Linked DNA regions of Homo sapiens: region 2 is linked to region 1. A link means that fine-mapping ties the variant in region 1 to the expression of a gene that starts in the linked region. Tissue or cell type: testis. Region 1 holds a variant in brackets; the other region holds the start of a gene. All regions are shown on one strand. Distances are between the middles of the regions. Region 1 overlaps LINC02272 (long intergenic non-protein coding RNA 2272). Region 2 holds the start of LINC02272 (long intergenic non-protein coding RNA 2272).

Evidence for each region.
Region 2: LINC02272 starts here. The variant in region 1 is fine-mapped to the expression of LINC02272 in testis (GTEx, PIP 0.95).

Annotation. Positions count from the first base shown.
Region 1 is chr4:156,622,647-156,634,338 of GRCh38, reverse strand. LINC02272 (long intergenic non-protein coding RNA 2272) reads left to right here. Exons shown (of 5, transcript XR_001741905.2): 4 at 9,490-10,656; 5 at 10,771-11,314. Among named protein-coding and RNA genes, the nearest start is that of LINC02272, 14 kb to the left of the region's middle. RefSeq lists an enhancer at 1-141. The variant G/A (reference allele first, on the strand shown) is at 5,281.
Region 2 is chr4:156,637,345-156,649,036 of GRCh38, reverse strand. It overlaps LINC02272 (long intergenic non-protein coding RNA 2272), which reads left to right and starts at 6,534. Exons shown (of 5, transcript XR_001741905.2): 1 at 6,534-6,772.

The DNA of each region.
Region 1 (11,692 bases):
TAAAGCCAGTTGGCAGAAATGGGGAGGAGATATTCATCTTTTTTTATGATGGGAAATCAATTATTTGGAACACAACAATGAACTATTCATTGGTTTAGTCCACACATTGTAAAACGACCAATTTATTTCATTTATGTACCTTGAATTTAGGATTTCTTTTTCTAATCTGTGTACAACGCAAAAATACTTTTGGTTTCTCGTAGACATAGCTTTGGTAGAATTCTGCTGCTCTTTCTATTATAGTTTGACAGCTGCAGTAAGCACACACATCTGCCATATTGAGGTCAAGTGGTACACTGTCATCTATCGTAACAGCTGTTGTTGGGGGATCGTTTCAAGTATCCAAAGGATGAATGGAATATAAATGATCACTGCATAAAGTATATAAATTTGGGTTTATTGGTTTTGAAACTGATTTGTTATCCACATACTCTGTAGTTTTTTTTTTTCCTAGTACTCCCATGAGGCTCAGCATGAGGTTACAAAGAAAAAAGAAGTCCTCATCTAATTATCTAAATATTTAAGAATGCTGAAATCTTGCTGGCGTAACAAATCAGTGCCAGAAAAAAGTCTCGTTAAATGAACAGTTTCATGTATGGTTCCTACTTAAAATATATCACAATCTGAACTTAAAATGCACATATAAAACTATAATATATAGTACATCATATATGTAATACAATATATGAAATACATAAAACAGTATATTAATAGGTCAAATTTTAACGTTATATGATAGGCCTAATATTGCTTTAATATCATTTGTAAAGTCTGTCTAGATCTATGTTTTTCTCTCTCTATCTCTATCTCTAGATTTGGATCTCTGTCTCTAGGATAGACTAATATTACCACTTCTAAACATCTATCCTGGAATATCAGGTCATCTACATCTATGTACTATGTGTGTGTTGTCACCATTTTGTTTCTACAAAAACAATGCTTTTGATCAAAGTAAACAGAAAGTTTAAGGAGTTCATATTTAAATGGAAATGTATAAACACACATACACAGTCCGGTAGAGCTTGTAAGTGGGTTTGTCCAATGTGATTAGAAATAAAGAACATATTTTAAGTGAAAGGAAATTATTGGTTATGTGGAAGAGTTACAAAGATACAGAGATGTTTTGGGGGCAGCTATCAGTAAAGGAAGGATTATTGTAGGTAATCATATGGTTTGGCATTGTATAATTTTTTCACCATTTACCATTCTTTGCTTGTCTGACATCATCACAATCATTAATTTGTGAAGAAAGTTTCCACGAATAGAAGTCCTCAACACTTAGAATTTTTGTAACCTGCATTTTAGTCACATGTAGGGAGAAGAGAACTTTTATGACAGGATGATGCCATGTTTGATTCGCTTTATGCTAATTCTAAAAGAATGGATCATTTGAATCTATATCATATTTGTGGAGCTCTTGGGAATATGCAGATTAATAAAGGCCATGCTACTGAAAGTTACCTTTTGTTTCTGTTGTCTATCCTCACTCTTCAGTGATCTTATCCAGTTCTCTACCTTAAAAGACTACCTATACACTGATGACACAAATGTATATCACTGGCCCAGACTTTCCCTTAAACTCCAGGCTTCTTCATCCAACTGCCGTGAGACATTTCCTCGGTCATCTAAATGTAGAGAATCAAGCTATTGATTTCTTTACCTGTCTCCCTGTTTTCACGGTCTTTCCTATCTCAAAAATGAATAGATAAATAAATAAATAAAATCATTTGTTAAGTTCTAGCATTTTTAATGGGCCTCACATTACTATAATGTTATTGTAAAGTCTTAGTGAGGACTAAATTTATTCAAAAGAGTGTTATTAGAACAAGAAAAAATGAATAGCTTTACTGTCTTCTCTTTTACAGTAGAGCAGATGTTAACTTTTTTCTTGTTACGATGGTGGTATTAATTCAATATCAACACTTTTCCTGTTGGTAAAGAAAAGCTTTCTGTGCAGACAGACTAGGCAATATGACTTCTAAACAAATTCTCCCTGCTCCTTTGCAGGCAAAAAGGAAATTATCAAAAAACTACATTTTTGAATATGCACAACTGAATTAAAATCTCCAATGGGTAATTGAGATAAAATGTTCTAAAATACTGAGGAGTGTCAATATATATTTCTACATGACCTTGGGTTATTTTCTATTAATATAAGGTGACTTATAATTGCTTTACCAAATTCATTATTTTAAATTAGGATTATGAAGACACATCTTTATATAAAGAATGTGAAAAAGGAATAAACATGCCAGATTAGTATAGAGCCAAGATAACAGTATTTTATAGCCAAGAACATATAGATTATTTTTCTTATTTCCCTGCCCTGGGCAATTTCTGAGAAAAATCCAGAAATAGAAGAACGCTGAAGTGTGAGGTTATGATAACCTGATTTATTGAAGAAGGTAAGCAGTCCAACAGAAGACATTTTTTGGAAGATACAAATCTTGTTTTTCAGACCAAAAAGACAATTTCGCTTGCAGACACCTTCATATGCACACTGTGAGATGTTTTGGATTTTGTTTTGCAGACTGATGAACCATTGTGGGGCAAGTTACTCATGACTTCATCCCTATTACAAATGACAGTTAAGAGATTTACTATGCATATGTAATGATTTGCCACATATGCATAGAATTAAATATCCCAGGCTTCTCTAATGTTTCATGTAAGATCTGCTGTTTTGCTTGGTATATGATTGTAAACGTGGCAGAGTTAAGAGATTTTAAGAACACGTGAAAACAACCTTAGTGATTATGAGTATGTGAAGACTTATTCTCAAGAAGTGATTGATAGATGTGGGAAAGAGCACTATTCTAGGAATCAGGAGACCTGAGTTCCTGGACTCAGCTCCAGTTCATCCAAATGACATGCCTGGGTGGCCTCCCTCTGGGCCCAAGATTGTCTCTTTTTTGAAATGAGGAGAATAATCATTGTCTTGCTGAAGTGCAGGTTGTTGTAAATAATAAAAGGCATAATAAAACAGTTGATAAAAGGCTAAGGAGAGTTCATACATTTTTCCATGGATAAAATGACAGTTCACTCCAGACAGTAGAGCAGATTCAAGGAGAAAAAAGCCAAAACACCAAGTTCAATTATAAAGTCAACACACAACTGATAAAATTAGACACGTGCAAAAGGTAACATAAACATGAAATATTTCTGTTGCTGGAATCAAGACAAGCCTGGCCAAAATAGCATGCTTAAAGCTAATCAAGAATGGTTAGTTTTAGAATGTTTAAAGAGAAATTGTGTTCTGTTGAAGAGAGGTGGTGTCTTGGGGTGAGTTTCTTAAAAGTAGACCCTGAGATGAGGCTCCATGCACTTTACCTATTAGGAAAAGTTCCCCGAGAAATGTAAAGTTTTGAGTAGAGAAGCAAGAAGTAAGGGAAAGAGGTCAAACAAAGGTGTGTTATCAAATTGAGACCTGCAAAAGGTAAATCTGGTTCAGTCCCACAGGGGAGATCTTGAGATCCTGTTGGTCATGTCTAGAACTTAAAAGGAAAACAGTATAAGAGAAAATAGTTGTAACTGTGAATTAGGGATACACCCTGAGGGAACACACTGACATATAAATCTGATAAATTGAATTCACCCATATTTTCTGTATGGTTCTAGAGATGAATGGATGTTTTTGAATATTCATTCATGTAGTCATCCATGCATTCTATGGATTATATACAGACATCTACTATGTGGCGCATGCTGAGTGTGGCAGTAAGGTGTACCCTCAGAAGGTTACCATATACTGGGGAAGACAGAATCAGAGGAGAATTTGTAATAAACAAGTGTTATGGTACCCTCAGGGCTTTACCCAGTTTTTGTCACATATTAGTAAAGAGGCAGGAAAGCCGAATGAACACTCATCACTGTGTGATCCTGAAAATTACCCAACACTTTCTCAGCATGCTATGGATCTGTGCTGTGGAGGTAACATTTGTGCTATGGAGATAACAACTCTACATAAATGATAGTTTGTTTTTGTAAAGACTAAATGAGACAATGCTGTTAGGAATTTTATATCTCTTTCTAGTGAATATTGAACTCATACAAGTAATCTCAATTTTTCTGATTCTACTTTTACCAAAAACTCTGAATATACTTTAGATCTGCATAGAGATGGAAAAGTACTGGTAAAGAATATGAATGGCTTAGTCTTCTGGAAGTCACATTTCACACTGTAAATTGAACTTTAGCTTTATAGACACATAGTACAGTAACCGTAAAAAGTTGTTTAACATCTTCATTGGAATTTAAGGCAGGGTGGATTCTGGTGGCTGCAGGAATCTTTTGTTGTTATTCTCCCAGAATATTCTCCACCGTAGAGGCTTTTCTCACTCCTGAAATGGTACACTGATGGAATGAAGATTTGGAAGTCGGAGAAAGGAGACTGCTAATTTGCTTAGAAATGCTGGAAGTCAGAATACTTGAGGCAGATGGACTGATGGGATGGTACTTTAATCACCTTTTACATTCCCATCTTAGAGTTATGGGGATAGCCCAACAAACAACATCTGTTAGTGGGCAGATGAAACTGGTGGCAATTTACGAGTCGTATATACTCACAGCCCAGGGAGAAGGGTATAGCATGATGTGCAGGGTCACATGAGGGTTGCACTTGGACAACCAGAAGTTGTGGGAGACAGGCATTGTGGTATTGTAGTATCCAGAGGTTGGAGTACCCACTGGTTCCAGGAGGATGTGACTAGCTTGTTTGAATAATTTCGCTGGCAGGGAACTGAAACCTGCTACTGAGGGATAAGTAGGGAGTGCACCTGGTCCTTTTGATAGGGAGGGTTTTTTGGCTAGTGGACCTTATCCATAGAGTTGGGAGGGGAACGTGTATTTAGGCCCTTGGAAGGCCTTTCAATAGATGTCAAGATGGCACATATCTGAGCCTTAATTTTGGGCTTTATGCCACAGAAGGCCAGAGGGGAGGAGTCAAAGAGAAGAGGAGCCTCCTTGAGCAGTCATGATGAAGAGAAATTTTATGGAAATTACATGTTTTCAAGATGCTTTGCTCAAATTATTGTAGGTGCGCAAAGTAAAACCTCTTTCTCCATCTCTTCTCTAACATATCCAATAGCATCAACTTCAATAATACAGGATTTCGTGCAAGTAGAGCTTCAATGAGAAAGCAAAGAAGTGCTGAGTCTAGCTCTAAATTTGGCATGGGGTTAGAGCAGAGACTGCCTTTGGGGACAGTAGTCATGAGTCATATTGATCACTATTTTATGAGCTTGGTTTTCTGAGTCTATTAGCTGCTTTCCAATTTTGTTA[G/A]CACCCTGAAGGTCAGATCCTGGCTGGCAGTCATTTGACAAAGCAAATGCCAACTAGTGGGCCTTCTCAGCTGATACCTTCTACCGGGCCATGTACTTTCTATGTCTGACATATGACCATTCTAAATTAAGTTTGCTAATACTGAAGTATGCCAGCTCCCTTTCTTCTCTGGTACATTTTTCAGTTTCGGGTTTTTGGTGTTTTTTTGTTTTGTTTTGTTTCTTTTTTGGTAACCTCTTTAAAGATTGCACAGCAGAAAACAAATATTTTAGAAAATAAACTATCTGACTTTTTCATTAAATATTTTCACAGAATTTACTTTAAGCAAAGTTTTATCCTTTAGCAACAGATTTTTATCTTTCAAATGTCTATCTTTAAACTTGTGCTGGAAAATTCACTTAAAATAACATGACTAACATTTCCAAGAAATGCATCCATGATTGCATTGAAGTAAACAAAGAAAGAAAATGAAAGGAGGAATATTATTGTTATTCTTATTCTCATTAAAAATATTCAGAGATAGGTGAGACAGAGGGTACATAGATTTAAGATAAGGTTAATGATGTAATACATATGATATGGTTTGGCTGTGTCCCCAACTAAATCTCATCTTGATTTCGATTCCCACAATTCCCACATGTTGTGGGAGGTACCCAGCCTGAGATAATTGAATCATGGGGGTAGGACTTTCCCATGCTGTTCTTGTGACAATAAATGAGTCTCAAGAGATCTGATGGTTTTAAAAATGGGCGTTCCCCTGCACAAGGTCTCTCTTTGTCTCCTGCCATCCATGTAAGATGTGACTTGCTCCTCCTTGCCTTCTGCCATGATTGTGAGGCCTCCCCAGACATATGGAATTGTAAATCTGTTAAGCCTTTCTTTTGTAAATTGCCCAGTCTCCAGTATGTCTTTATAGGCAGCATGAAAACAGCATGATATGTAAATACAATATATTTACATAATTATTTAAAAAGTCCTCTTGGAAAGTCTGCTGGTATTTCTAGGCTGTGGATAGTGCCTTCAAAACATAATGAGTAGTAGATAAAGGAGCATGAAGAGATGGAAAAAAAAGTAGAAGTAGAAATTCTATATATTTTTTTGAAACAGGGTCCAGCTCTATTGCCCAGGCTGGAATACAGTGGCGCAATCTCAGCTCACTGCAGCCTTGATCTCCAATGCTCAAGCCATCCTTCCACTTCAGCCTCCTGAGCAGCTGGGACTACAGGCATGTACTACCATGCCAGGATAATTTTGTTTACTTCTTGGAGAGACAAAGTCTCACCATGTTGCCCAGGCTGGTCTCTAACTTGGGCTCATGCAATCCTCCCACCTTGACCTTCCAAAGTGCTGGATTACAGGCGTGAGACTCTGCACCCAGTGTGAAGTAGAAATTTTAAAGCGCAGATGTTAGAGGAAGTTCAGGGCAGGGTCTCAGAAAACTGTGGGTTTCCTAGTTGCCTCTTTCTATTACCTTTACCTTTCTGCCAAACTGTCAAAGATAATTTTTTTACATTTATTTGACTCATCAACAGTTTTTTAATCTCTCCTCAATTCAATATATTTTAAACTCTGTGGTATACAGTAAACCCATAGTGTAATTTTAAAACTTGTTTAACTTTGATCTACTTTGACCTTTCCTCCAATTCTTGTCTGAGGATGTGGTAGACATTTGTTGTTTTCAGATTGCAACCTCTCCTCCATCTTTCTATGGCAACAGTATCTCATCTGCCTAGAATGAATGTTTCCTCACCATGTTCTTTCCATGTGCTGCACCCTCCCTACACTTCAGGAACTCCTAGGAATGATCAGGATAGCCAGTCCCACTGGCCACAGTTACTAGTTCAGGAATGAGCTCATGACCCAAGTCAACCATTGCAGTCAACTAAATACAGTTCTAGGCCTTTAGTTTGAGCTAGTAGGTTCTTTCTTTCTGCTAGATTCAGTCTTCTGGTCTGGCTGTAAACCTGCAGCTTATGGGGACTGCTACATGGACTCAAATAATTGAGCCAACTCAGAGAAAGAGGGCAGAAAAATGAGCCTTGGAAGATTATCTGAGACCTTTAAGGAATATGAGCCAATATATAACTTTTTTTCATTATTTTACTTGAGAACCTAGTTTTAATTTTAAAATGGAGACTTCTAATAATGTTATGAGTCATTTACTTTCACCTAATCCCCCTGATTTTTTATTTTTGTTGCATTAAACTAGTTTGTAAATTATACCCTACAGGTAAACTAACACTTTCTTTCCCCCCAGTAGTGAATTCTAGCATTAAGCAGCTGAGAGGAAGGTGTTAAAGTCGATGGCCTGAGATCTTTTCACTCCCTTTATGGTAGAATGGTGGATGGTAGAAACAGTACTGGAGGAAAGAAAAGAAGATAGGTGACTCCTTAAAATCTCCCTGTCAACTTAACTGCTGAGTAAAAAACTAACGTTATTTGCTAGTAAGAAACACATTAACTCTTAACTGCTTTTACTAGGATGCCCCAAGCTAGGGATTGCCTAGGAAAATAGAACCTGGGATTTATCAGGTATGGCTTCTAGGGGATGGGAAGGTCATGTCATGAAAGCTGTGCCATTCCCTCAAATTGTTTAATATTTTAAAAGTTCTGAATTTATTAATCTGAACCAGAATCTGGGAGCTGCCATTGATGATCCAGATAGGTCTTTGCGTTTTCTGAGCCTTTTCCTTGACTACATCCTTGAAATTATTTAGTAAAGTTTGATAGGTAAAAGCTCTGATTCCTGAGAGTCTGATTTGACAATCAGGTCCTGTAAATTAGCTCAATGACCTAAGTGGATAAATAGAAGTTTTACTGCATTAGTAAAGCTACTAGCTAAGCTTGGCCTGTAAGGGAGTTCAGTGAGGGTCTCTCTAAGTGTCTTGCACAAGCATTAAAATATATTTAATTTGTGTCACACAAGAGCCTGGGTGATTAATATGCATGGCTTCTGCATCTACCTTTTGAATAATGTTAGAGAGAATTTGTTGAAACGGGAATTTTGTGGCCTCATTGTTAAACGAGTCCTAAAGATCACCAACAAAATCATCATGGCAAATATGACCACATTCCAGCAGGATAGGCCTCATCATCAGTGCAAGACTTGAAAAAGAGGTGAAGAAAACAGATTTGGAAACTTTGACCTTTCATTGATTTCTAGAGTACAACAGTTGGAGTTGAAAGGGCCAAGGATATCAAGAATTAAGTCTTTCTTTGAAGAATATGAATCTTTGGTGTGCTATAAATTCCTATAAAAAAGGAAGAATGTCCTTTTCACCTGAAGCCTTGTGGGAATGGCTTCACAAAGGCTGGTCAGAATTTGGGAATTGATGGAACAGATACATTCCTCCTTATTAACTAAACTGCTCCCCATTGCATCCGCCTCTCACTCCCTCTATCAATAACAGGGGACAAGAAGCCACAAACAGCCTGGGATTGGGTAGTGGGAGAGAAGCCAGTCGAGTGAAAAAATAAAGCCCACCAAGCAGGCTGATAATCTGAAGGAGATAAAATCCTGGAAAAGAAGAAGTTCAACCCTAAACTAAATTATGCGTTCTTTAAAAAAATGCTTGGATCTTAATACATTGATCAGCAAAAAAAATCGATCTGTAACAGTGGCCATAAGTGATCAGAGGACATTTTAGTTTTGTGAGGGAGAGAGAATAGTTATGAAGATTATCCATGTTTTCATCCATGGTTGAAGGAAGAGCCAGCTTTTAGGGGGGATTTGATGGATCAGTGGGGGTGGGAGGATGGGGAGTTAGGGGGCAGAATAAGATACTTTTCTGACTTGAATACTTTTTTTTCTTAATATTACCAAAAAACATACTTGTTATGTTCCTCTTTCTATAATTTTTGGTGATATAACTGTGATAAAAGACAAATCTCAAATGTAAGTATATAAATTGGGCTAGGAGATGTAGATGTATTTAAATAACTCCTTCTGTTGGAAGGGCCCAAGATCATGGGCCCTTCCCAGGGTGATCTATGCCCAGTGACTGGTAGACATGGGATATAAACACTTAGGCCTCTTTCTCCAGCTAGGAGAATCTGGAGGTTCATCTCAGCCTTAGAGCTCTGCATAGGGATGGCCGAGGCCAATGTTGAGACTGTATCACAGCCATCATTTTTTTTTGTCCATTTCTCCTTCCTTCCCTTCCCTTTCCTTCACTGGTGCTGATTCTAAGATTTCTCATAAATCTTTAGCATACTACACCCATCTCAGAGCTGGCCTCTTGAGGTAGCCACACCGCCACAGGAACCATTGTAATCTCTGCATCAAGTTCAAGTTCACAAATAAGCAAAGAGGTGTGTACTACTATTTGACACTTAGGTGTATTGGAGCACAATTTGACATGAGTAAGGTTATTAAGGTTTACATTTATTTTCTTAATTGTGTTCAAATGTAATTCCTTTAAGTTCCTGGAAGAAACACTTTTTATTTATATTGGTATAAACTATGTGGAAGTTTTTAGAGGAAATTTAATACTGTGTAAAGTGAAATAAAATCATTTTTACCTTCACTGCCTTAAAAGAGACATAAAAAATATAAATCTAATTTAGAAGTTTCAATAGTTTATTAGTTTTACCTATTTAAGCTAAATTCCTTAAATGTAGTTTTTCTTTTGGGAGGAAACATTGTTTTGTGTGTGATGAACACTTAGATAACTTTCAAGAAGGATATAAAACTGATATATATCTTCACTCGCTTGCCAGATAAAATAAGAAATTTCTATTCATGTTCATTGACTCATTTATTTTTTTGGTTAAATTCTGTTTACTTATGTCATTTGTTTTAAGTTTTTATTAAGGTGACAACAAATTTCAAACTGACAGCATTTAAAATAAATATTCACCATTGCCAACATAGCTTTTTAAGAGTCTGCAAATAGAAAGAAAGGTAATTTTTTTCTGTATTTTCCAGACTTGTGACAAAGAGCTAGGTGAAAACAGGGGAAAAAGGAGGAAAATAAAGAAGCACCAGACTAAACCTGAAGAAAGGGGACATTTAAAAATTCTTCCTTTTGTGTTCAGAGCTCACAACATAGAAAAAGATATGGTTAAAAAAAAGTCGTGATGCTCATAAAAAGCAACATTTTATTTTCAAGCCAATTACATTAATTATACAATTACCTTGTAGCCAGTAAGAATCACATATATATGAAAGCAAAATATTGTTTAATTGAATAAAACAATCTGATACATATGCCCAAAAAACAATAGAGTAAATAAGAGTTTTCCCAACAGTGGCAAAGAGAATAATTTTCATGTTGAGTTTTATTGATCTCCGGAACAGTAGCTCCCCTGAGCAGAGAACCATAACAGAATTAAGGAAAGATATTTCCATTCCAGAGACCAGACATTTGGAGGACAGTGAGTATAAATCATGAACCTAGCCAATTATTTTATTTCTTATTGGATTCTTGACTGTTTCTTACTTTCATCATTTCGTGAGTCATGACTAACAGTGCTTGTGCTCATCTACAGTAATTGATTCTGAGAGAAATTTCTCCAAGGATTCCTGCAGTTCTCCTTTGAACATACGAAGAGGGAACATTCTTTCAGTCCTAGAAGTTGCTGAAGCAGAGATGGAGAACCCCAGACTGGAGGGCTTTGATTTCACCCTGCACATCTAAGGGCATAAATTGGTTCCAGGTCAGGATCATATGAGCATAAGTCTGAGTTGGGTGTCTCTGATCATTCCAGAATTCCATTGGAAGGCAGACTTATATTCCTGAGAAGCAGGAATGAGAAGCACAGTGGAATTTTGCAAAGGAAACAGAACTTGAACTCAGCAGTCGTAGGTGCCAGTCCTTGACTAGCTATAATATTGGGCAAGTCATATAAATTCTCCAGGCACAGTGTCCCTTTTGGCAAACAACAGACAGAATATAAATATGTGTTGCCAGGTCAGTGGACATTTCAAGGACAGTTTGATTTTAATGTGAAGTCATCTAATTTTAAATGCTCTATTAAATTTTATTTTTTTTAGTTGTATAAGCTTAAGAACAGGTATCAGACAAGACTTCTTCAGGACAGACAAAGCACTATTTCATTTTTTTTTCCTCTGGCCTTCCCAGCTCAGATTCTCAAAAAATAAAAGAAATTAAAAAAAAAATTCTGCTTTCAATCCCTGCTTTTTTCTATTTTTTAATTATCACACCATACACTTCAGTTGGTCTTCTGCTCCACCACCTCATGAAAAGGATCTCTATTAAAAACTCTCAAGACTTCACGTCACTAACGAAGATGGACATTGTTTTTTCCCCTATTTTACCTGACCTGTAAGTAGCATTTGAACATCTCAAGTAACCTTTCCTTCTTGAAATCATCATTTTATTTGGCTTCATTGACACATAATCTGCTTTCCTCTGATCTTTCTGGATGCTCTTTCTCAATAGCCTTTTGA
Region 2 (11,692 bases), 15 kb before region 1:
TCATAAAATCACTCCAATCTTTTTTTTAAACACATTGTATTCTCTTCCTGTTTACTTTCTTTCTTTAGGCTTTATTTTCCAAAAGAATGAAAGAAGTATGAGTGTGTGTGTGTTGAGGTGTTGGGGTGGAAGGTAGGATTAGATTTAGATTAAGAAAGAGGGTGCTTTGGATCAATTGAATGCACCATCTGTTAAGTAGTGGGGTAACTGGTTTTCTTGTTGGTATGTATCTTGCGCAGCTGACCCAGTGGACAGAGATGAAAAGGAAGTTACCAGGTCTTTCCATTTTTCTTTCAGTGGGCAGGTTCTCCACACTTAGACCATCAATTGTACTTTTTGATTTAATCCAATCTGCTTTGTTGTATATAGAATCTCTTCTGAATTGACTTTCCTAGTTTTCAGTTTGGGTTTTATCATTTTTCTGGCTTTCTTAGGCAGTGTGTAGGAAAGTTGTGTGAAATGGCCTTAGGGATAGCTATCCTGATATTTTCTAATTTGATGTTTTGTTTTATTATTTTAATTTGGAAAAGACACTTTTAACAAGCTTGACAACTTTGTTAATCATCCAAACTAGTAACAGGAAGGCCAATGAAAGGAGGTGTAGGGAGTTTGGCCGGGAGCAGACAGAGTGACAGTAATGAAAATTTTGATGTTACAGCAAGATAAATAATTATAAGTAGCAGTAGAAAATGTAAAAGCACATTGAAAATTATATCCAGAGATCTAAATAGGTTTTATAATCAATCTATCATTAACAATATTTTAAACTCTATTAAAAATTATTTCAAATGTGATAATGTGACTAACAGTTTGGTTATAGAAAGATAAACATTTGAAAATTCCTTTTTTAAGAAAATTAATTTTTAAAAAATGTTGTAGATACACAGTAGGTGTATCTATTTAAGGGGTACCTGAGATGTTTTGATACAGGCATGCAATGTGAAATAAGCACATCATGAAGAATGGGGTATCCATCCCCTTAAACATTTATCTTTTGAGTTACAAACAATCCAATTACATTCTTTAAGTTATTTCAAAATTTAATACTTCATGGGGCTTCATTTTATCATCTAAAATATTCACAAAAGAATATCCAATTCCTGTATATTTTTTACTGTATTAGATATTATCATGTATATGTGTATATACATGCACTATCCATGCACACACACACACACACACACACACATATATTTACATATATATATATACACATATTTGCCTTTGACTATTTCTTGTTGCACTTTAATTTAGAAGTGAATATGACTGGTATTAAGATCCATGAGTATAGGTAAAAACATGACACCCCACAACAAAATGGGGAAACATATGATAGGGTTTGTATTTGATATTTTCCTCTACCATCTGGAAAGTATGCTGAAATTTTTCTTTTTGGGATTTCCAGACAGTCTGACTAGTCTGACATCTTTGTTCAAAAAAGATAAAAAGTTCCCTTAAAGCTATGTGGAGCTGTCTCGGCAGTTGCTGTAGTTTCCATCCACCTACTTTTTTGCTTCGTTGTTTAAGGCTATGTCCCAGTGACTCTGAAAGTTATAACCTGCCTTATTTCAACTTGCTTAACAAAAGCTTTCAGGGCATCTTGCTTTCATCTACACCATGCACATGGTCACATTTTTTAATGGAAATTCCAGGGCTGAACACTGCCATGGCATTCTTTTACCTCAGTACTTGGACGGCAATGCAGAGAATGGAATACCAAGGTTACAACATAATTGTGGAAAGCTTCATACAGAGTTTTGAACCGATGTCTATGAACCAATGTGATATCAACATCCAGATCAAAGTCTGTCTTAAGTCTCACATGGTCTGAAGAGATTTTCCACCAAGTACAATGAAAATCCATAATGGGAAGAATATATTTTTGTATTTGCAAGTTGTGTGTGTGTGTGAGAGAGAGACTTCATATATATGCATCTGTGTGTATGTTTGAAGTGAGAGAGGAAGGGAAAGGGAGACAGAGATAGAGAGAGATGTGTGCCTGGATGGACTGAGAAGTGTCACCACAGCTTTGAAATAATAATTGGACAATTTAACAGTACACAGAATTTGCAAAGCACTGAGAAGTTTTGGCATTTGATATTAATTGAAGTTACAAATATGATCATCTGTTCTGTTGAAATGTTTTAGCTATGTTGTCTCATAGTAAATTCTTAATACTGCATTCCAATGCTATGTAATGGTGGAACATCATTCTCAGCATCATTTGATGATGCTCCAGCTTTAAACTATTAATACTTTAGCCCGCAGCATCCTTGAATCCAAGCTCAACATATGTGCTTAACATACAAATTTATTGATGGGTAGTATTTATTTAAAAATTACAATCTAAGATCCTAAATATTTCATGCCAGATTTTATAGTTATTTAGAAAAAAATGGGCAAGATTTTACCTGATGTCAAATATCTAAAAGCTCTGACTCTTTGTCAGGAATTCATTATCTTTAGAGAAGAGGTAGGCTCCAAATGAATAAATATAGTCTAAACTATGTCAGGTTCAAAGAGGCTGTCAGAGTAGTTTTGTGTGAGGTAATTCCAAGATTCTGCCTAATTTATAACATAATAAGTAAAGATAATCTTTCACCAGGGGTATGAGATGGAAGTTGAAGAACTGTATTTTGGAAAAATAATATGTACCCTCCATATTTCTTTTCCTTTTTCCTTGATTTACTTCAACAATAATGATATGATGTATTTACTGAGAATGATTTTTTTATAGCAATGCTTTAGAAATGAACTGGAAACCAACTTCTCAGAAAATTTGTCCCTATGACTACAATGCAGATGAGAAGTATGTGTGTATTTTGGTTCTTTGACTCTTGATTCGTTTCTCAAGTGTTCTTTGAAAAGCGATAAATTCACTTATATTTTCAGAGAGCAGCAAACCTTGGAATTAAATCATCATGGAAATAAAATAAAAAGCAAAAGAAGATGAGCCATCCTTAAGGGGATTCTGGAAGGGTCCTTTGGTAAAATGATTTTTTCAATATCCCAGTGACATTACCAGCAATCTCACTCAATGGAAAATAATTGTAGTATCAAATTTTCTCAAGGAATGAAAACATCTCTAATATAGTGAACAGGTCATTCAGTCCACAGAGGTGGCATCGGAAAATGGCCCTTCTTTTCCTTTTGTGAGCTTCCCCTTTCCTAAATGGTAGTTTCTCAATCACAACACCTAGTTGCTTGCCACAGAAATGGAAATTGATCTCTGCTAACTAATCACTGATCCCATCTCACTGGCTTTGGTGATTGTCCAGTTTTGCCATATAATCCAGGCAGAGCCAATCAAGGCATTTTTGGGGGAAATTATATGTATACCAGGGGAGAAAGGATCTCCATTCCTCTGAGATTGCAAATACTAAGTATCACGTAAAGCTACAGCATTCCAGAGCTATTTTGATTGTTCATGGATGGAACGTGGCTAAAAATAAATGATTTGAGTGAAAAACAGAGGAGTGAGAGATTCTTAATGACATTCTTCACAATTCTGGATCTAGTTGTGACTAAAGGTTATACAATTACTTTGATTTCCTAATTAAAGCAGCCAATAAATTATCCTTTTGCTTAAAAAGAAAACACTGGTTTTTCCACTTAAAAAGAAACCACTGTTTACCAATATAGATATTTTATTCCAAATTTCTAGCTACATGCTGGCTCAGATTCAAAGAGTATAGATTATTGGAAAGATAAAAAGAATCAGAGGGAGTTTATTTTGGAGCATACATTATTGTCAGGGAGCATATTTCTAAGAGGTCATTGAATTGGGAAGATTTAAAGAGACCAGGGTAAGGCCGGGCGGGGTGGCTCATGCCTGTAATCCTAGCACTTTGGGAGGCCGAGGTGGGCAGATCACGAGGTCAGGAGATTGAGACCATCCTGGCTGAAATGGTGAAACCCCCTCTCTACTAAAAATACAAAAAAAAAAAAAGAAAAAATTTAGCCAGGCGTGGTGGCGGGCGCCTGTAGTCCCAGCTACTCTGGAGGCTGAGACAGGAGAACGGTGGGAACCCCGGAGGCGGAGCTTGCAGTGAGCCTAGATCGCGCCACTGCACTCCAGCCTAGGCGACAGAGCGAGACTCCGTCTCAAAAAATAATAATAATAATAAAATAAAAAAAGAGACCAGGGTAGAATGTAGAGACACTTATTGGATTTGGGGTGCGAGAAGGCAGAGGAGATGTGAAGAAAGAGTGAACGGCATGAAAATCAATCATTGCTATTACTAATATGTTGCTAGTAAGAGCTCCAAGGAAATTCTGTTCAGCTTTCACTACATTTTAGATACTTCTCAAATAGTAAATAATGAGTCTTCAGAGCTTGTTCACTTACATTTCTAAACTTTGGATTTTGGCAATAGAAAAATCAGGAGTTAAAGGAATCTGGGCTATAACACTGTACTCCAGAATTTTTGTTGTTTTATCTTCTCTTTCAAACTTAAACCGTGTTGACAAAGTAATTGGGTAAACTCCATTGGCTTTCCTGTTTAATAAAACGAAGGCTGTAGTGTTGCAATCAAGCCATACTAATAGGTTTCTTACATTTGAAGGTATATTTAAATGATAAAAATCCTTTAACAGAAGGTATTGTCTGTACTTTCTACATACTTTACATATAACCTAATCTTAGCAATGAGGGGATTTAATGTTACATTCATACAAATAGTCGCCTTTATCATATAATAAATATTCTGAAGTCAATTTTAAATTGGTGGCATCAGCTAAAGATAAACTACTTAGTTTCTTCTGCCCAAAATAATTTGGAGAAAATTATAATAGTTTTTTCTGTAATTATAATAAATTCAAATTAAAGGTTGTAGTTGTCCAAAATTGACCCTTTGTCACTATGCTCTATGTGTGGTGTCTCTAACTGGCTAGATGTTGAGCAGAATACAGAACTTAGAGTACTGACAAATGGTCTAACCAAAGTAAGGGCTGAGATTCCATAGGGAGTATTAACATTTATGGGAAAACTGACTGTGAGGGAGTGGAAGATAATTAAACCAGGGCTAATAGCAACAGACTTGAATTTCAGAGGGCCACCTGGATATCTTGTTCTCAGTCACTTTCTCTCATGTTTCATTTTCCTCATTTGAACAGGTCAACAGTCATTAAAATTTTTCATAACATCTGAAGCAAATCATTGCATTCATTTCTTTGTAAGGTTTAAAAATCCACATATTTTATTGTTAGCATTCAAAACATTTACTTTTCACCTTTTTTTTCTTTTTCTTGATTTTTTATAAAGTTGAAATAGTCTGGGAATCATTAAGTGCCAAATGCTTTCATCAGGCCCATAAACAATGGAAGATTCCATAGAAAATGCAGTTACTTCTTGGGAAGTTTCAACAAAACACATTTTCACTCATTTAAAGCTCAGGAAAATAAATCTTGAGGTCCTTTATGAAAGGTACACTTTAGACCCTAACGAAGCTGACACAGTACTGGATTTCACAGAAAAGGATTACAAAAGCTGTGTTACAGGCTCAGTAAATTCTGGAGGTTGTTGGAAGAGTTGACATGCATCTCAGTATTTGAGCAATTCCTTTTTGTCTCACTATCTTTGACCTAGGAGGTTAGATAAAATATGAGAACAGAAAATAAGCTTTTAAGAAACTATCTAGTTTTAATCAAACAGAAGAACCATTGAGGTCAGGTTATTAACCAAGATAAAGGCCAAACTGTTATGCCCTCGTTTCTCAATATCTTACAACTGTAGACTTATTTTTCTTTCCCTAAAACATATTTCTATCATATATTTATATTTGTGACATTTTCTATAATGCGATAATTCCTTGGGTTTTAATATGCAAACTAATACTCTTTAAAAAATTACCTGATATGTATAACTTAATTATTGGTACAATTAAGCAGTAACTGTAAAATTAGTGAGTAAATACCATTAAACCAGTTATTACAAGTATATATGCTAATATGACAGACAGCAGAGAACTGTACCCTGAAAATGGACTCTCCTCAACATTCCCTTCTAGCTACTTGAAAAAGGAAGGTCTACTGAATCCCTACTAGTAGACTCCATTGATCTCCATTGATTCACAAGAATAATAGTGTGAAACTAATGAAAACATGATGGCATGCAGCACAGACGGAAGGCTAGTAATTTTCACAGTATTATAGTCCAAATCCACCTGTCTCAAAACAACTCGTTAAAGTGTTAGCTCTCTTGTCATCATTTCAAACCACTCAATTTGATGTCTCTAGTAGTGTGTGCCAGGAATCTGCACTTAACAAGTTGCCTCATATCATTCTGATCACTTTTAAGGCTTAAAAGCTACTGCTATGTGTTGGGATGGGTGATCAAGTTTGGCTGGAACTTGCCATGTCTTTAAGCTGAGGAGCGAGTGGATCAGAGAGCAGCTGACCTCACAGAGCCATGGTTCAGTGACTCATTCAGACATGTCCTTGAGTAGTTGTTCTGGATTTCCTCGATGGTAGCAAGGTGAACTCATGAGGTGCTGGTCCAGAAAAGAACACGAGTGACTATGCCCATTGTCACTGCTCAGAAGTGTTCTGGAATCTTGTTTCCCGCCCTGAAATAAGTTGATGGCAGTTATGGCATGGGCTGATCTACCCAGTCAGCAAGGCCAGATTGCAGAGAAACTCAGAGTCTAGGAAAATGAATGTCTAGGAACATTCCTCAAATAGTCCTACCAGAAGACACAAAGATGATGCATCCGGATGAAGAATATATCACTGAGATTAATGGCCCTGGGTTGCAGCCAAAAGCATCTCAGAGGTTAGTTGAGGACAAAAAGAAGTGTGTCTTTCAATCCATCTCCAGCAGACTAGACACTTGAAGCAAGAAGTGTTCACAGAAGTGATAGGGCATTGAACTAATGCTTGAATTTAATTTAGCCTGTAGCTATTTATTAAATATGTCTAGCCTTTCTCAGGCAAAGAATTGGTGTCAAGGGCAATGAAAGTTAAAGTCAAATTAATCAAAACGCAAGTGAAGAAATTTCACGAAATATATATGGCATTGTGTGTTGGGTGGGGAGCAGAGGGGCAGAGGTCTCAGGGGAATTTGGGCTTGTAGAGGGAGTAGAGGTTGGCAAAAGGGTCCCTACCTTGTAAGATAGGTCTCTTCTAATAATTTGCCAGAACTTGAAACTGTGTATTGGAATAACTTTCATACTTGAGAATCTACTGCAGGTAAACTGGTCATTGCTTGACTTTATTATTACTAATTTTTATGGTATATATCTACTTCACTGGTTGATGATTCCATTCTTGGCTATAGAGAGATTTGGTTCTGCTTTTCTAATGTGTCAACTGCAGATGAAGTGCTTGCCAAATATTTAATAATGGGTTATAAAGTCATTTATGTTGGAGATTATTACTGCCACAGTCTAGGAAATGGAAATTCAATGAAATACAAATGACTCTACTGTCTCAATACAATGCCAGACTTGAATGAGATAATTTATGAACAAGAAAATGGCTATATTAAAAAGCATTATTAGATGAGAATGATGTCCACACAGTAGCTGACACATACTCTGCAATATCAATAAGAAGGAATTTTTCCACTAAACGGGATTTGTAACTGGACCTGCGTCTGGAGTTTGTTGTATTAAGTAAAGACAATAAATATTTCCTGCCTCCTTCCTTCCATCCTTCCCCTTCCTTCCTTCCCATCTTTTTTTCCTAACCCCCTTCCTTTCTTTCTTCTTGAGTCCTAGTTTTCTTGTAGATGACTCTGTTTTATGGTTCTAAATGTGGTGGGAGATAAGAAAGCATTGCAACAGGAGTCCAGGGACCAGGCGTCTTTTGGCTAAAAATCACCTGTATGATGGGATTGAGTAATCTAATCTCTTCAGGCTTGAGTCGATTTACTCATAAGAGGAGCAAGATTTGAATGACTATTCCATGAAATTAAACAAGAACTTGCTGAGTAGTGGGATGAAAAATGGAAAAGGCAGAGGGCTTATTTCAAGGAAGCTTCTGTTTGTTAGAAGAGGTGAAACTAAAAATAAATGTAGCTCACATGTCTCTTGAGGCCATCCTATCTTTTGGAAATGAAATTAAATGGATTCGATGGCCTTATATATTATCCCATGAAAAATATCTTGCCTTGCATATTTTTGAAAATTCCTGGAAGTTATATGTCAACATTGTCAGTTTTGGCTTAGGCGTTGGGTGTTTCTATTCCCACTGAACACTTGATTTAACTTAAATATAATTTTCTGTGTCTATTATCTTTCATCTGTACTAGGCCTAGACATAGAACTCAACCCGCTTCTTCTGAGAGAGGCAGCAGGGCATAGAGGTTGTTTGATGACAGTCTTTGTGCTTAGGATTGAATTCTCACTCTGACAGTACCTGTATAAGCTGGGCAAGCAGTCTATCCTCAGTTTACTCCCTTGTAAAATGGGCTAAAAATTTTTCTTATTCATACAGTGTTTTGTGAAAGCAAATGTGATCATTTAGACAAATACCTTCCATAAAGTGTGGTATAACGTAAATATTCAATACACTGTTATCATTCTTTAAAGTCACATATACTGGTACTTGTGCATATAGCATATGCCGTAGAGGCCTAAGAGTGCTGAGGACAGTTTATTGCATTGCAGCAACATAAACCATTGACCATTAGATAGAATTGTTTGCTAAGAGCACATCTGTTGATTTTTTTAACCATACCACAGAAGTAAATTGCAATACATGGCAATAGATGCAGTACTACAAGGCTCAAAAACCAGGGGGTTAGGGATTCACTTTGTCTTGGGAAAAGGGGCAATGGAAGGCTTCAGGAGAAGGTGATAATTGGCAGATGAATAGGGGTTTATCAAGTCAGTAAATTACAGAGGGCATTACAAGTTGAGATAAAGAAATGCACAAACCCTCTAATTTGGCATTCAAGGCATCATTTCACAGAATGTTTATTAGACATCTAACATGAAAAATATTGCTTTGGGAGCTGGAGTTACAGGAGAAGATAAAACTGTCAAAAAGACTGTAAGGATGCAACGTGTTATGAGAATAGATGTCAGGTCCTTTGGGTGTATATAGCAGGAAGCCTTAACCTGGTCTGAAATTGGGTTTCCTTGAGTATGTCATATTGAAGTTAACACAGCCAATGCCTCAGTCAATGCTATCAGTCCTACTTTTTGACAGAAATCTGCAGAATCCTGCACTGTCTTATCACCATCACTACCATCACATTGCTCCAAGAGACCATTGTCTTTTACATAGTCTACTGCACAGACTCGTAACTGCTCTCTCTGCTTCTCCCCTCCCCTCTTACAATCCATTCTCAACACGGGCACTCCAGTGATCCTGGTGAAACCTAGTGTTAGTCTATGCACTTCTTAGCTCAAAACCCTCTGATGACTCCTATTTTGCTCAGGGTAGAGTGGGAGCCCCCCCATAGACCATCTGATCCTGTTACTTATCAGTAGCCCCTGACCCTTTCTCCCTTGCTTATTGGCCCTAGCCATGCTAGCGTCCTGCTAATCCTCAAACACATCAAGCATGCTCCTTCCTCAGAATCTTTGTGATTGCTGTTCTCTCAGCCTAGAATGCTTTTCCCCCAGATATGAGTATGACTCACCCTATAATTTCCTTCAGATTCTTTCTCTAATGCCACTTTCAAAAACTACACAGCAACTACACAGTAAAAAAAAAAACCATCTCTGCCATCTCAGTATCCCATTTCCCCTCACCTTGAATTAGTGCTGCCCATGGTACTTATTCCATCTGACATACTTCATACTATTTGTTTATTTATTCGTTGCCTCTCTTCCCTTCCTAGAATGTGAGCCCAATGAGCTCGCTGATGTAACACCTGTGTCTAGAATAGTGTTGGGTACATAGCAGGTTCTTTGTAAGTGGTTGCTGAGGGAATGAATGAACATATGAGATGTGTTTGATAAAGAGGCTTGTGACAAGTGAGGTGGAGGGCTGGTTGGGGCAGGCTTCCAGCAGAGGGAACAGCAAATTCATTGGCTTTGAGCCGGAAAATGCAGCAAGTTGGAATGCATACAAGACATGCAATGTGGATGGAGTACAGAAAGCAGAGGAAACTGGAACTAGAAAATTTTTTCCCCTCTATAATCCTACTGTGATGATTAAAAATAAGATTCATTTATTATATTTTAGACTTTGTGGTGGAAAGTGGAAGGTACCTCAGGAATATAAAATGACTAGATTATAGCTGTACAATAAAATATTTTGTCTGTCAAGAATGTTTGCCTTACTGTTCTGAAGTTGTAGATTTGATAAGCTTTCTGGAATTATTTGATGTTTTCATTTGATTAAAAAAACTTGGGGACAAATCTATTCGGATGCTAAAAAAGAAAATATGGTTTTTCTTAATCTGCATTTTTTCTGTCCAATTTTAGAGACTGCCCTTTCTTTTCATTTTGCATTAAATATTCAGCAAGGCATTTTTGAAATGCTTTAAATTTTTGTCCTCTCTTTCCTTGGCTGTGACGTTCTTGCCTTGGCTGTGAGGTTCTTTCCTTGGCTGTTTTTTTTTAAGCAATCCGACAAGTTTTCTTCTGACTGATAGCCCTGGTGGCTGAGTGATGAGTGCATCTCATCTGGTTTGGGGACCAGTATACAAAGCCGTGCCTGAGGATCATGGAACATGGGCTGGCTGCTGCCATCCACAATATGAAATGAAAAGTTCACTTTAGAAAAATACACGTGGTGAAAGAAAATGTTCTTTTTACTTCAACATGGGAATAAAACATAAAATAAAATACATTCCCCCAAATGAGAACTCTGCTGAAATGGCTGATGTAGGGGAAAAAGAAATGCATAAATTTGCTTCTGAAGCTTGAGAGTGTTGCTAGAAGAATGTTGAAAACTTTGGAGTTCCATCGTATTATTTCTTGTAAAAATGTTTATTGATTTTCTTACTGAAGCTTAGATCATGTCTACATGAAGCAGAAAATTTACTTTGACTTGGAGTTTCTTACAGTCTAGCCAAGAAGAGTTGGAAGACACAAAAAATTGAACATTAAGTCCTAATTTGTGTAATTGTATCACTGAAGCCTGCTGGGGCCTTACTAGCATGGCTGCTGCTGTAGCGGCTGCTGGTGGGGAGGTATCAGTAAAAGAGAATGTGGCTGGAGGAACAAGGGTGGGGTAAGTCACCTGTCATTTGGCTTTAGAGAGGGGGTTGAATTTTTGCTTAATGTGCCTTAACTCAAGGATGTGGGAGAACCTGATCTTTCATCTGACAGATTTGCCATGATAAGAGATCAAGAATTGCATATGGGATGCCTTATCAGATTTTATCGGATTTGTAGACTATTAGGTCGAGTTTGCAGCTGTGAAATTCATTTATTTGGTGAATAATGCCTGTCCACAGTACTGAGGGCATAGTTCTGGATAAGTCAGCCAGGGCTTGGGATGAGCTCTAAGACTAGCAGGGAATAGTATTGTAAAGCAGGAAAATCAATTTGGTGCTGAGCACCAGGGTGGAGGTGGTTTATATAAACTGCAAGATTATGGGAGTATGAAAAACTAATATTTGAGAAAATGGGCCATCATTGAATGTGAATGTCATAATCAGATCTCTGTTTTGTTTATTTTTCTTTCAAGCAATTCAAGTACAGGTAACTCAGACAGTACAGAGAGGTACAGAATGAAAAGCAAATGTCATATAAATTTGTTCCACTCTTTAGAAGTAATGATTTCACATTTC